Homo sapiens: one gene and its partner. The protein of the gene in region 2 interacts with the protein of the main gene of each other region in a pairwise test. Each region holds a gene or a part of one and is shown on either strand. Other genes may lie near its edges.

Region 1 (3,815 bases), on a different chromosome or scaffold from region 2:
AATTAACCATATAATGGCTGAGTTCAGAAATCTGGCCAGGCTCCTTCTCCTGGAAAAAGCATGGGAAAGGCAGGATCTTGAGGGAAGGGAAGATTTTGGATTGATTAGGGGGAGCGGGGGAGGAAGAGGAAGAGGAAGAGTATTCCTGGGCCAAAGTTAGAGACAAACCTGATAGGAAGACCTATTCTAGGGGAGGGGATGGTGATCAAGCCCACAGCCAGATTGGACTGAGGCCTGTGGAGGATGGTAGGGGTATCTGAGGGTTCCCAAGGTTGGTTCTATCTGGAGATGCCTGAGGCTGGAGGCATCTTAAAAACTCTGGGTAAAGGTCTGGCTCCTACAGGCAGCAGCTCCCTCTTCATAGGGCCTGAGCCAAGTGTTGGCAACAGGGCTGATGGGAAACCAGGGTGCTCTTGGCCTTGCCACCAGCAGAAAATGGTCCCCAGCCCACAGTAGGTGCTCAATAATTATTTACTAAAGGAATGAGTATATCATTGGAAAGACATTGCCCATCTCTAGGCCTCAATTTATCTGTGAGATGGCAGGTCAGGATGGAGATTATAATTTACTGGGAAGACTAAGCCACAGCACAGTGATCCTGTGGTGCTAGTCCTACCTAATTCAGGAGGTCGACACACAGAGGTTCTGGGGGCTCAGGCACTTGTCCACGGTCTGGGATCCTAACCAGTCCGTGACTGCAAATCCAGCTTTTCTTTTTTCTTTTCTTTTTTTGAGACGGAGTTTCGCTCTTGTTGCCCTGGCTGGAGTGCAATGGCAAGATCTCGGGTCACCGCAACCTCCGCCCCGTCCAGGAGAAGGGGCACTGAGGAGGGACCCAGTTCTCCCGCGGCTCTGCCGGATTCAGGCTGCAGCGCTTCCAGCGCTCCCCGAGGTGGGTGCGGGTTTCTACTGTGGCAGCAGGGCGGGCCCCCATCGGCTGGGTTTTCAAATAGAAGAGAAAACCGACCCAGAGGCCGCGCCCTACTGACCTGCGCGGGGGTGCGGGGGGAGTCACGACGACCTCCCCCACCTCCCCCAGCCTCTAGGCTATTACATCCGTCCCCAGCCTTCGGGCTCAGAATAGGAGGCAGGGAAAGGTGTGAGGGGCACTGAGGTCGGGGGAGGAGCGAGAAGACCCGAAAGCCAGGCGTGTTGAGGGCAAGGTGGGCAACAGAACCTTCTTGGTCATTCGAGGCAGCCCTCGCTAATGACCATTGGGGTCCCAACACTCGAATCCCCACCTAAGTCCTATTCAGATAGTGACTGGGAGTGGGAAGGGAGTTTGAGATCCTAAGTCCCACCCTCTGGGCTGGGAGCCTGAGGCCAGAGAGGGGAAGTGATTTCCTCAAGGTCACTCAGCAAAACAGCGCCCAGCCCGGGCCAAAGCTCAGGTGTCTCCCAACCCCCTCCCCCCGGCCATCACCCCCAGAACTCGGTCCCCCGGAGCTGAGGTCTGCGCGACTGGATTTAGGGGCAGAATGAGTGCGTCGGGAACCCCAAAACCCTAGATCAAGATACAAGGGGAGTCGACGGCCCGGAAACCTCGCTGCGGGTGCCCTAAGCGCGAGGCCGCCCGGGCAGGGCCGCCCAGGGACCGGGGCGCTGGGTGCGGGGCACGGGGCTCCACCTCCCGCGGGCTGGGGCGCGCAGCGCGCGGCCCCTTTAAGAAAGTTCGCCGGGCGAGTTCATCAAAGTTTAAAAACTCGCCGTGGAGAAGGGCGCGGGGGAAGAGGAGAGAGGGAGAGCGCTGACCCAGGCGAGAGAGAGGGGAAAGGCCCGGCCGGAGGCCGGCGCCCCGCGGCCGGGGCCGGGGCGAGCCCACGGTGGGCGGTGGGGATTGGCTGCGCGTTCCCCCGGAGACCGCGCGGCGGGCGGGGGAGGGGGCTGGCCGGGCCCCAGCTGAGGCCGGTTCCGGCCCCGCCCCCCGCCGCCGGCGCCCGCCCCCTCCCCCGGCGCCCGCCCCCCGCCGCCGCTGCCGCCGCCGCCGCCGCCGCGGCGCACTCGCCGGTCGCAGTGAAAAGGCGGAGGCGGCGGCCCCTCCGGCTCCCACTGCCTCCCCCGCCGCACCCCCTCCCCACCTTCCGCACCCGCCAAACTTGATGTGACCCTGGCCCGACGCGGAGGCTGCCCCTCTCACTGCCCCGTGGGTCCCCCGCCACCCGCTCCGCACCCGCGAGCGCACCGCTCCCCGCGCCCCTTCCCACTTCCCGCGGGGCCGGCGCCGCGCTCGCCCTCGCGTTCCTTCCCGCCGCCCCCTCCCCCGCACCATGAGCAACCTGAAGCCGGACGGCGAGCACGGCGGCAGCACCGGCACCGGCTCCGGCGCGGGCTCCGGCGGCGCCCTGGAGGAGGAGGTGGGTCTGTGGCCCCGGGACTTGCCGGGTGAAGCGCACGCCAGGCGGGCGCGGGAGAGGGCGAGCGGGGCCTGCCGCGCCTCGCGGGGCCGGGGTGGCCATCGCTCCCGGCGCCTTCCCGCCGCTGCCCTCTCGCCCGGGTAGGAGCGGCCCGTGTCCGCGGGCGGGAGCGTGCGGCCTGGACTGCCCCGCCGGACAGGCATTGTCTCCCCGCCCTCTCGGGCTCGAGGCGGGCCGCGCGCGCCGGCCGCCGTCCGGGCGTCCCGCGGTGGGCGAGATGCGCCGCGTCCGTTCCATGCCTGCCGCCCGCGCGCCCCTTGCTCCCCACCCCGTAGCCGCTCGCCGCCCTCCTCCGAGGCGCACCTCCTGCGTGGCCAGGACCCCGCCTCGGCGGCACGGAGCGGAGCGGGATTAGCACGGCCCGAGGGCGGCACCCTCACTCCACTGCCTTTTCCGCCCTGACCCCCTCCCCGTGACCTTGGAGGCCTGGGCCGGCCGGCTCCTCGGTTCCTGCGAGCTGTTGTCATGGGGGTGGGCGGGCTTTCTTCACAGCCCCAGAACCTGGGCTTTGGCAGAGGTGAGCCCACAATTTAATTAGTTTGGAAGATGACTAAAGACACTCAGTTCGTCCTTCTCCTCTCTCTGGGTTTGTCCTGGCAACCAAGCCAGGACCCCAAAGCTGGCCTGGGTGGGATCCTGCCAGGAGGGGCGAAATCATCTCGTCCACCGGCCATGTGCGAAAGGGAGGGAGTGTAAGGCGGCTCCGTGGAACCACCAGCAGCTGGGTGGTTAATGGATGGTAGGGAGGATGTGTGTGCGGGGTGGGGTGCTGGATAAAAGCCTCAAAGATATCAGTGAATAGGGACGAGGAGCTAGGCTGGCGGAGACAAGAACTGGAGTAGAAGGGGACAGGCTTCGCAGGGCCTCTGGCCTCTGCTGCGTCATTCTAGGGGTGAGAGAGCCTTCCTGCCCCTGCCCTGGCATGTTCTCGCCCAGGAAACCAAGGGCTGGTTATCCACCTTGGGCGCCCTTCCCCTTGGCCTGGGGGAGAAACCGCAGAGCCCCTGGTGTGGACTGGTGTTGCCTCCTCCCCTTGTGCTGGGGGTTGGTGCAGAATGGCGCCGGTGGCCCTCGGCTGGGCTGGGCTCAGCGCCGCCAGCTCCCACTCGGCTATTCAGAGACCTTCAGCCAGCCCCAGTCGATGACAATCTAGGTTTGGATCTCCACTTTTTGGCGGAAGGGGAAGGGAAGAATATACAACTGTGACATCTGTCCACTAATGACTTAAGTGTGGTGGATTTGTTTGGGCTCCAGAGGCCTTGCCCTCCTTGTACCTTGATGCCAAAAGGCCCTTGGCTTTGGGGATCTTGCCCCCATCCTGACTCTACCTGGCTGTTAGAATCTCCCTTGACAGTTGGGGAGGGTGACAGGGTTGCTAGCGTACTTGGAGTCTCTGCTTGG
Region 2 (3,600 bases):
CTTGCAAGAGATGGGACAGTAGCAATGCTTTCATATGGGGCAGGAAGTTGCACTGGTCACAGGCAGCATAGCACTAGTGGACAGTGCCTTCCCGGGCTGCAGAGTCAGACAGTCTCAAATTAAAAACACAAGTGAGTGGTGGAACAGGGCTATATGTATAAGGCCTACTCCAGCACAGTCATAATTTAGCGATATAAAGCATGCACTGCACCTAGCACAGTGCATGATACATAAAAGTCAAAAATGTGTTGCGATTCCTACCTCATGCTTCCACTTTCTCCTGAGGAATGTAAGCAATGATTATTTTTCAGTGGTACCACCTACCAGGCATGTGGCACCCTGCCTGCATCTCATGTAATCCTCACAATCGTGCTCAGGTTACTATTAATATCTCCATCTCACAGTTAAAACGGAGTTCAGAGAAGAAACTTGCTCAACTTAATGCCACAGTTAAGTGACAAGGACCAGTGTTCCTATCCAAGGCTTTCTGATTTCATAGCCCCCACTCTCAACCATTAATACCAACTGTCTACGTGGGAAGCCTTGGGGACCAGAAGCGCCGTCTGAAACTTCAGCCACGGCGTCTAAGGTGTCTAACGTCCTTTTCACGACCGTCGCCTGCTCAAATCTGCCCTTGAAACTCTGAGAGACAGGGGTCCCGTTTCTGGCCCTGACTTGCCCCTGGCTTCCTGTGCAGCTAGTAAGTCCTTTGCTCTCACTAGCCTTTAGTTTTTGCTTCTGATAATGGGCAAGTGGGTATGTAGGGTGGCACACAGCAATACTTACAACCCCTGCAAAATGAAATATATTAACCTCGCTTAACGTTTTAGAATTCACATCAAGCCAAGGGGACAGACGGCGGACTCGAGACAGAAGACGCCGACGGTTTACCCCTTACCCCCTTCCTGGTAAAAGTATACTGAGTCCCATCCCACCTCTACTCCACTGTCACCCCTCAGGCGGGTCCAAGGTCAGGGATGGCACAGGCCCTCACCCCCTCGTTGATGTGGTCGTAGATAGCGTCCGCGCCTTGATCGAAGGCGCGCTCGAAGAACATGACGCCCACGATGATGGTGAGGGCGAAGGTGGAGGTCCTGCGGAACAGCAGGGAGTACAATTTCGAAGTCAACGTCGCGGCCGCCATGTTTCTTCACAGTCCAACTCGCGCCACCGCGCCTGCGCTGGGGCCGACCTCGTTCCCCAAAGGCCCTAGACGTGCAACACTTTATGGGATTTGTAGTTCCTCTGAATCTCAGCCTTCGTGTTTTGAACCACAGAGGTATTCCTATCCTGGGAATGAGGAAAAAAACTCAAAAGGTTCATATCAGGACAGCCCAGATAATCTGATAAGATTTATTACCCAATTTTTCTTCTCCAGAATTCCTGGCTGTTAGAATATGTCAAACTACAACTCCCAGAAGCCCTCGCGCGCCATCACCTTCTCCCCGCCCTCCGCCCAGTCCCGGCTTAGATTCCCAAAGCTCTCTGGGAAGGGCGAACTGATGGCCAAGGCGAGACTACGAATCCCAGCAAGCAGTACGCGACGCGAGGACGCAGGAGGAGGAGCCCGGAGCTGCAGCCACCGGGGAGCCAGGTACCTTCCGCGAGACGTCGAGGGGCGAGTCCTAGTCTCTTTTCTCCGCACTGGAAGACTTGAACACTTCCTTCTCTGTGCGTACGCCCTGCGGCGGGACGCACCATTTCTTGGGATAGGGTGTGGATAGAGGGGCGAGGGCAGCTGGGTTCCCGAGACCCTGGCTCAACTCTTCGCCTTGTCCCCTGCACCAGCCCCAAGTCTAGGCCAGGAGCTGGAGCCTGCGGCAAAAGTCTTGTCCTGGAGGTTAAACCCTTCACCCTGGATTAAGGGCAGGGACGGATCTGCCCTGCTTCCTGTTCCTCTCACCCCTGGGCTTCGCACCGGGCAACCCTGGTTTGGAAGGCTGGAGACTTGGAACCTGCTTGGGATTGAAAAGAGCAAGGGCTTTGGAGTACCTGGGGCATTCAACAGATGTTTTCCCAGCGCCTGTTCTGGTCCCTGCTCTGGGGACCCAGCAGTGAACAAAGTCCTTGCTCTCACAGAGCGCTCAATCTACGGAGTGGGCGGGTGGGGAGATGCAGTACAGCAAACAGATAGTGCTTTGGTTGACTGGAGAGGCAGTGGTGGTGACATTGCACCCTGGGTAGCTGCTCTGGGGGGTGACACTTGACTAGAGACCTGAATGAATAGTAGAGTTGAACAGGAAAACGTTGGTGCAAAGGCCTTGAGGCAGCTACAGTCCTGGGATGTTTGAGGGAAAGAAGTAGAGTGGACTGTGAAGAGGTTGACTCCGGTCAGCTCATGTCTGGCCTTGGAACCCACCTTACGGAGTCTTGTTTTCTTTGGTTTTTGTTTTTAGAGACAGGGTCTCACTGTGTTGCCCAGGCTGGTCTCCAACTCCTGGGCTCAAGCAATCTTCCTGCCTCGCCCCCCAAGGTGCGTGAGCCACCGCGTCTGGCCAAGGAGTCTTGTCTTTTTCTAGTTGCACTAGGAGGCCATTGAAGGGTTTTCAGGAGAAATGCGACAAGATTTAATGTGCACTTTAATGTCATCATCCTGGCTGGTCTATGGAGAGTGGACCGCAAGGGGGAAGTTATTGTAGTAGATCATTTGAGGGAAGATGGGTGGTTATTTATTTGAGATGGAGTCTCGGTCTGTCGTCCAGACTGGAGTGTAGTGGTGCTATCTCGGCTTACTGCAACCTCCGCCTCCCGGGTTCAAGTGATTCTCCTGCTTCAGCCTCCCGAGTGGCTGGGATTACAGGCGCCTGCCACCATGCCTGGCTAATTTTTTTTTTTAGTAGAGACAGGGTTTCACCATGTTGGCCAGGCTAGTCTCAAACTCCTGACTTCAGGTGATCCTCCCATCTTGGCCTCCCAAAGTGCTGGGATTACAGGCGTGAGCCACCATGCCCGGCCTGATGGGTGGTAATTTAGGTTAGGGTGTGGAGCAGGGCAGTGATCAGATTTGGGATGTAATTTGGGAGGGAGGGCAGACAGAGCAAGCTAGCAGATGTGTGTAGGGTGCACAGGAAAGAGGAATTGAGGAGGATATCTAAGTTTTTTTTGTTTTTTGTTTTTTGTTTTTTTTTGAGACAGAGTCTCACTCTGTGCGGCTGGAGTGCAGTGGCACAATCTTGGCTCACTGCAACCTCTGCCACCCATGTTCAAGCAATTCTCATGCCTCAGCCTACTGAATAGCTGGGATTACAAGCGGATGCCAACACGCCCAGCTCATTTTTGTATTTTTAGTAGAGACAAGGTTTCACCATGTTGGCCAGGCTGGTCTTGAACTCCTGGCCTCAAGTGATCCGCCTGCCACGGTCTCCCAAAGTGCCGGGATTACAGGTGTGAGCCACCGCGTCCAGCTGACATCTAAGTTTTGACCTCAACAATTTAAAATCAACAGAATGATCTTAAGTTCTGTTTTGGCCACATCAGTTTGAGCTAGCCAACAGACATCAAGTGGAGGTGTCTAGAGGCAAATGAGGACATGGATCTGTAGTTTAGAGGAGAGGTATGAGCCTGAGAAGAGTCATCCGGATAGGGGTGGCATTCAAAACC

The links. The genes of interacting proteins can lie anywhere in the genome.
Region 1: the proteins of ZMAT5 (region 2) and RBPMS2 interact in binary tests that used the Homo sapiens proteins (3 or more experiments, as listed by UniProt).

Annotation. Positions count from the first base shown.
Region 1 is NC_000015.10:64,773,772-64,777,586, reverse strand, and holds the start of RBPMS2 (RNA-binding protein with multiple splicing 2), read left to right. Parts: upstream 1-1,997; 5' UTR 1,998-2,267; coding exon 2,268-2,354; intron 2,355-2,843; exon of another isoform or gene 2,844-2,931; intron 2,932-3,135; exon of another isoform or gene 3,136-3,150; coding exon of another isoform or gene 3,151-3,153; intron 3,154-3,815.
Region 2 is NC_000022.11:29,764,943-29,768,542, reverse strand, and holds the start of ZMAT5 (zinc finger matrin-type protein 5), read left to right. Parts: upstream 1-1,535; 5' UTR 1,536-1,671; intron 1,672-3,600. Other genes in the region: UQCR10 (cytochrome b-c1 complex subunit 9), read right to left, coding at 995-1,144.